Linked DNA regions of Homo sapiens: region 2 is linked to region 1. The links come from fine-mapping of genetic effects on gene expression. A gene starts in region 1. The other region holds a variant in brackets. All regions are shown on one strand. Distances are from middle to middle. Region 1 holds the start of LRRC37B (leucine rich repeat containing 37B). Region 2 has its middle 3.4 kb from the start of VILMIR.

Region 1 (2,904 bases):
GGGACCACAGGTGCGCACCACCATGCCCGGCTAATTTTTCAATTTTTTTCTAGAGACGAGGTCCTGCTATGTTGCCCAGGCTAGTCTCAAACTCTTGACCTCAAGCAATCGTCCGGCTTTGGCTTCTCAAAGGGCTGGGATTGCAGGCATGAGCTATCGCGCCCGGCCAAGTATTTTTGTTTAAATTACTTTTTGGTTGTCACTTATCTCAATAAATATTAACATATGTTTACGAAACCTTTCTTTTTCTTTTTTTTTTTTTTTTTTTTTTTTTTTTTTTGAGACGGAGTCTCGCTCTGTCTCCCAGGCTGGAGTGCAGTGGCGCGATCTCGGTTCACTGCAACCTCCGCCTCCCGGATTTTACGCCATTCTCCTGCCTCAGCCTCCCGAGTAGCTGGGACTACAGGCGTGCACCACCTACGCCCGGCTAATTTTTTTTGTATTTTTAGTAGAGATGGGGTTTCACTGTGCTAGCCAGGATGGTCTCGAACTCCTGACCTTGTGATCCGCCCGCCTCGGCCTCCCAAAGTGCTGGGATTACAGGCGTCAGCCACTGTGCCCGGCAAACCTTTCTCTTATCTGAAGAACTGACCTCAACCACTCAGGGTTGAGTCCCTGTGATAAGGTTTGAGGGTGCCTGAACTGTCACCATGATTCGTCCCCTGGGCTGAGCTCAAACCTAGTGATTTGTCAGGTAAATAAATTAAGGTTATTTCCCGATAATACAGACCTGTAACACCGTGAAGTAGGTTTTAGGCAGGATTCCCTCTTTTCCACTGCAAAGGAGAGGTAAGTTCTTGCTAAGGTGGTCAGGCTCCTAGCTGGGACACTGGGAAGGTGGCGGGAGATTGGAACATGCAGTAGTTGCATTCTGGAGTTTACTGAGGCTTTCCGAGTGGGGATCCCATGCAACAGGTCTTAGGGACCCCCCTCCCTCCAGGCGTGGCAGCCCGGGGTGTGGCTCCTGGCACAGATCCGGAGCAGTTGTCATCGGAGTCAATTCAGGACTCCACTTCCAAGCTTCGGAGTTTCCTAAATTCTGGGGGCTTGTCTCCCTGTACCCCACCCCGACTAATTTTCCTCGGTCGCTGGCGCTGCCCCGTCCCTTAGGTCGCTCGGGCCGCCCCCCTCCGCGACTTTTTTTTTCTTTCTCTCGCTGCCTCTTTCAGCCTCAGTTTCCCTAGAGGGCGGGAGGGGAACGATATTTGGGGGCTCTCCTGCCTTCCTCTCCGAGCCGCGGAAGGGGAGTCGCGGGAAGGAGACCCGGCAGGCTTTGGGCTCCAGCCAGGGGTCCGCGGAGACTGTGGTCTCCGAAGGCCTTAGACGCGGGGCTTGTCAGGAGCTGCGGGCCTCTTTCAGCCGCGCCACCCGCACCCGGAGCGCCGTGCTGCGCCAAGTCCAGGCGCCCCGAGCTCTCCGCCCCCGACTCAATGCTCCCGCGCTCCCCCTAGCGGCCGCCGCGCCACCTCGCCCCCTTCCCAGGCTGGGCGGCGGCGCACCTCACGTGACCGCGCTCCTGTAGAGGGAAGAAACAAGGTGGCGGTTGAAGGCGATCTTGAGTGGGGCCCCAGCAATTCGGTTGAGCCTTCTCCCTCCACTCGCTTCCGCCGGCCGGGCCCCTCCCGCCCAGCCCCTCGGGCCTCCCAACCCGGCCCCGGCGCTCCCCACCGCCGCCACTGCGCCCGGCCCTCCCCGTCAGCTTTCCCTTCTCCCGCCGCCTGGGCTCCAACAAGAGGGGCCGGCGGGGCAGGCCGACCAAGCAGCCCGCGGCTCCCGCTGCGGAGCGCTGCGCCCCGGCCCCGCCGCCGCCGCCGCCCACGTCCGGACCCATCGGGGGCTCCCCTCGCCGATACGCGGTAGTAGCCGGGGCAGGTGGGCAGCCGCCAGGCTGAGGTGGCGCCCAAGACGCGGCTGAGCTCGCCCAGGGTGGGCAGCAGTAGCCGGAGGAAGCCACCGCCGCCGGCCCGCCCCGCGCCGGCACCAGCGCACGGGCCCGGCGGGGGCGCGGGGGCAGCCACCTAGCCCGGACCACCGCAGCCCGGAGGGCTGTCAACAGAGTGGTGTATGATGACTACGAGAGCGAGGAGGAGGAGTAAGAGGAGGGGGGCGGCGATGCCGAGGAGACCCAGGAGTCTGAGGACAACTAGGAGGATGACATGGAGGAGGACGACGATGACTCCGATTATCCGGAGGAGCTGGAAGATGACGACGAGGACGCCAGTTACTCCACGGAAAGCAGCTTCAGCAGCACTCCAGGTACCCACCCAGCGCAGTTGCTGCAGACTCATTCCCCACCTCCTCTCCCCTCCCCCCTTGCTCACTTATGTGCTGTGCATCCCGCTCCGATCTCCCGCCAACCCCGCCGACCCCTAAACTTTAGAGGGGAAATGGGAGGGCACATCAAGTGGCAAAAAACTAGATTTATAAGAGGAAAGAAGCACATTGTTCAAAATGGAGATTGCATTGTTGCAGGCCGCACTCGCTTGCTCCCCGTCCCCCCAACTCCCTTTTTTTCTCCTCAAAATTTGTGCCAGTGCAGTGTCTCCACCGGGCAGGATTGAAACTTTGGCAAACACATATCCATTGCATTCATTTTTCTCCCCTTGTTTTGGTGTGGTTTTCTGGAATGAAAGAAGCCTCTTGTTTTGCAAACCTCTTTGCATTTCTAATGTGTTTCCTTTCGGATTTTCATTATATATCTGTTCCTTAAAAGGGAATTAAGGATTTGTACAGATTGTGGCACACAGACACACAGAAAAACATGCCTGTGTTCACACCCCTAGCTGTGGTTTTTAAATTGTGTTAAGGAAACGGATCATTTTGGTTAGTAGGGGAACTTTACCTGGTCCTGTGTGTTTGTTTTTATTCTTCGAGTGCTGACGGGCTAGTGCAACAGTTGCTGGT
Region 2 (2,904 bases), 72 kb after region 1:
GCTTGCAGTGAGCCGAGATCATGCCACTGCACTCCAGCCTGGGCGACAGAGCGAGACTTCGTCTTAAAAAAAAAAAGAGAGAGAGAGAGCCATGATCAGGAAGCCGTCATGATGACTCGTGGAGACACTGGCCCTGAAGTAGCTGCAACCCTCTTAATACACAGGAAGAAAGGGCTGGGATGCAGGAAGGAAGGGCTGGGAGGCAAGCACAGGCAGCCCCTCTGTGAACCCTCAGGTAGGAGCCACCAGCCATTTTACTGCTGAGTTTAGCATTTGGGGTTGTTCAAGAGTTCAGGGCTTCTGGGAGACTAGAGAATGCCTTCATCTCCAGGGCACTAAAACCTCAGTTACCTAATCTGTGAAATGGGTATGATCATAGCAATCCCACAAAACTGCTGGTAGGGTTACATGTAATTATTTCTCCTTTTTTTCTTTTTTTAAGAGATGGGTTCTCCCTATGTATGTTGCCCAGGCTGGACTTGAACTCCTAGGCTCAAGTGATCCTCCCACCTTGGCCTTCCAATGTGCTGGGATCACAGTAAATTTTTTCTTGTAGAAACAGGGTCTCCCTGCTGGGCACGGTGGTTCACACCTGTAATTCCAGCACTTTGGGAGGCTGAGGCGGGTGGATCACCTGAGGTCAGGAGTTTGAGACCAGCCTGGCTGACACGGTGAAACCTTATCTCTACTAAAAATACAAAAAATTGGCCAGGCGCGGTGGCTCACGCCTGTAATCCCAGCACTTTGGGAGGCCAAGGTGGGTGGATCACGAGGTCAGGAGATGGAGACCATCCTGGCTAACATGGTGAAACCCCATCTCTACTAAAAATACAAAAAATTAGCCAGGCGTGGTGGCGGGCGCCTGTAGTCCCAGCTACTGGGGAGGCTGAGGCAGGAGAATGGTGTGAACCCGGGAGGCAGAGCTTGCAGTGAGCCGAGATCGTGCCACTGCACTCCAGCCTGGGCAACAGAGTGAGACTCTGTCTCAAAAAAAAAAAACAAAAAACAAAAGAAAACAAAAAATTAGCTGGGTGTGGTGGTGGGCACCTGTAATCTCAGCTACTCAGGAGGAGGAAAATCGCTTGAATCCGGGAAACAGAGGTTGCAGTGAGCCGAGATCACACCATTGCACTCCAGCCTGGGTAACAAGAGCAAAACTCTGTCTCAAAAAAATAATAATAATAAAATAACAATGGATTGGTTGAGAGATCACCGTATGCCAGAAGTTGCTTTAAGCATTTTGCATGTATTAATCCATTTTACACCTCACAATATCGCTACCAAGTAGAAACGATTATCTCGATTTTGTAAAAGGTGAAACAGGAAAAAACCACTAGAGCAGAGCTGGCAGACCCTCAACCTTCTTTTCCTTCTGACTCCAAATGACAGACAGCATTCTTTCCATCTCTCACCTCCTCATGCCTCCTGTGGAAAAAATGAATGAACAGATGAGAAAAGTTGGAGCTGGAGAAAGACCGTGTTCCTCGTGTTCTGTGAGACCTGGGAAGGCTGCTAAAACCCAGGGAGCAGGAGTTCTCCTCCCTCCATCCTTATCCACAGTCTGGGTCCCATCCAGACCCTCCTCTCCAAACCGGGGGTTTGCGACAAAGCAGGTGAGGGAGGCATTTCATTCCAGAGCAGAAGAAGGGGGTTCCTCCCCCATCCCACTCCCGTTTCATTTTTAAGGGGAAAAGCAGCTCCCCATACGGTGAGGCAATGAGGCGGACCAGCAGGTTCCTGGGGATCTC[C/T]GCAGCCCCGTTGCCATAACAACTGAACTCACTCGCAGCCTCTGATAGGGGAGTCAGCTGGAACCACAGCTTGGGCAGGAAACGGATGAGGGAGTAGGAAAGAAACTTCAAGATCAACCACTGGCCCTCACACCGAGCTGCGCACACCCCAAGGCCAAGTGAGGCTGGAAACCCTTGTTGTCCTTGGGAAATGGGGGAGGGCACTGGTACCCCTGGGACCTCCCTCCTGAATCTGGGCAGGTTTAAACATTTTTTTTCCAACTTTGGAAGACAGTTGTACAACCTCGAAGGAGAGGAGGTGTCAGGATTCACAAAGCGTATGGATCACACATGGCTCTAGGGGACATTCTCTTTGCTCTGTTTTATTTTTATTGTATATTTTATTCTTTTATTTTGCGATAGGGTCTTGCTCTATTGCCCAGGCTGGAGTCCAGTGGCATGACCACACCTTACTGCAGCCTCAAATTACTGGACTGAGGTGATCCTCCTGCCTCAGCCATGCGAGTAGCTGGGACTACAGACATGCACCACCACACCTGGCTAATTTTTAAAATATATATGTTTTTGTAGAGATAGGGTCCTGCTACATTGCCCAGGCTGGTCTCAAACTCCTGGCTTCAAGTGATCCTCCTGCTTTGGCCTCCCAAAGTGTTGGGATTATAGGCATGAGCCACTGCATCCAGCATCATTTCTTTTCATTATTATTATGATTATTATTTTGAGATGGAGTCTCGCTCTGTCACCCAGGCTGTAGTGGAGTGGTGTGACCTCGGCTCACTGCAACCTCCACCTCCCAGGTTCAAGTGATTCTCCTGCCTCAGCCTCCTGAGGAGTTGCGATTACAGGTACCCTCCACAATGCCTGGCTAATTTTTTTTTCTTTTTGAGACGGAGTTTTCCTCTGTGTCCCAGGCTGGAGTGCAATGGCGCGATCTCAGCTCACTGGAACCTCTGCTTCCCAGGTTCAAGCAATTCTTCTGCCTCAGCTTCCTGAGTAGCTGGGACTACAGGCAGGCACCCACCACACCTGACTAATTTTTGTATTTTTAGTAGAGACGGGGTTTCACCATATTGGCTGGTCTCAAACTCCTGACCTTATAATCCGCCCACCTCGGCCTCCAAAGTGCTGGGATTACAGGCGTAAGCCACCGTCCCTG

Evidence for each region. PIP is the estimated chance that this variant, and not a neighbour inherited with it, causes the effect.
Region 2: its variant is fine-mapped to the expression of LRRC37B in lymphoblastoid cells (GTEx, PIP above 0.99). The same link has a PIP of 0.9 or more in whole blood.

Annotation. Positions count from the first base shown.
Region 1 is chr17:32,005,877-32,008,780 of GRCh38, forward strand. It overlaps LRRC37B (leucine rich repeat containing 37B), which reads left to right and starts at 1,507. Exons shown (of 15, transcript NM_001321350.2): 1 at 1,507-2,256. It overlaps LOC124903972, which reads right to left and starts at 1,831. Exons shown (of 4, transcript XM_047437248.1): 1 at 1,500-1,831; 2 at 731-829. The coding sequence starts at 1,831. RefSeq lists an enhancer at 508-1,430 and silencers at 1,473-1,522, 1,563-1,912.
Region 2 is chr17:32,078,159-32,081,062 of GRCh38, forward strand. No RefSeq gene overlaps it. Among named protein-coding and RNA genes, the nearest start is that of VILMIR, 3.4 kb to the right of the region's middle. The variant C/T (reference allele first, on the strand shown) is at 1,749.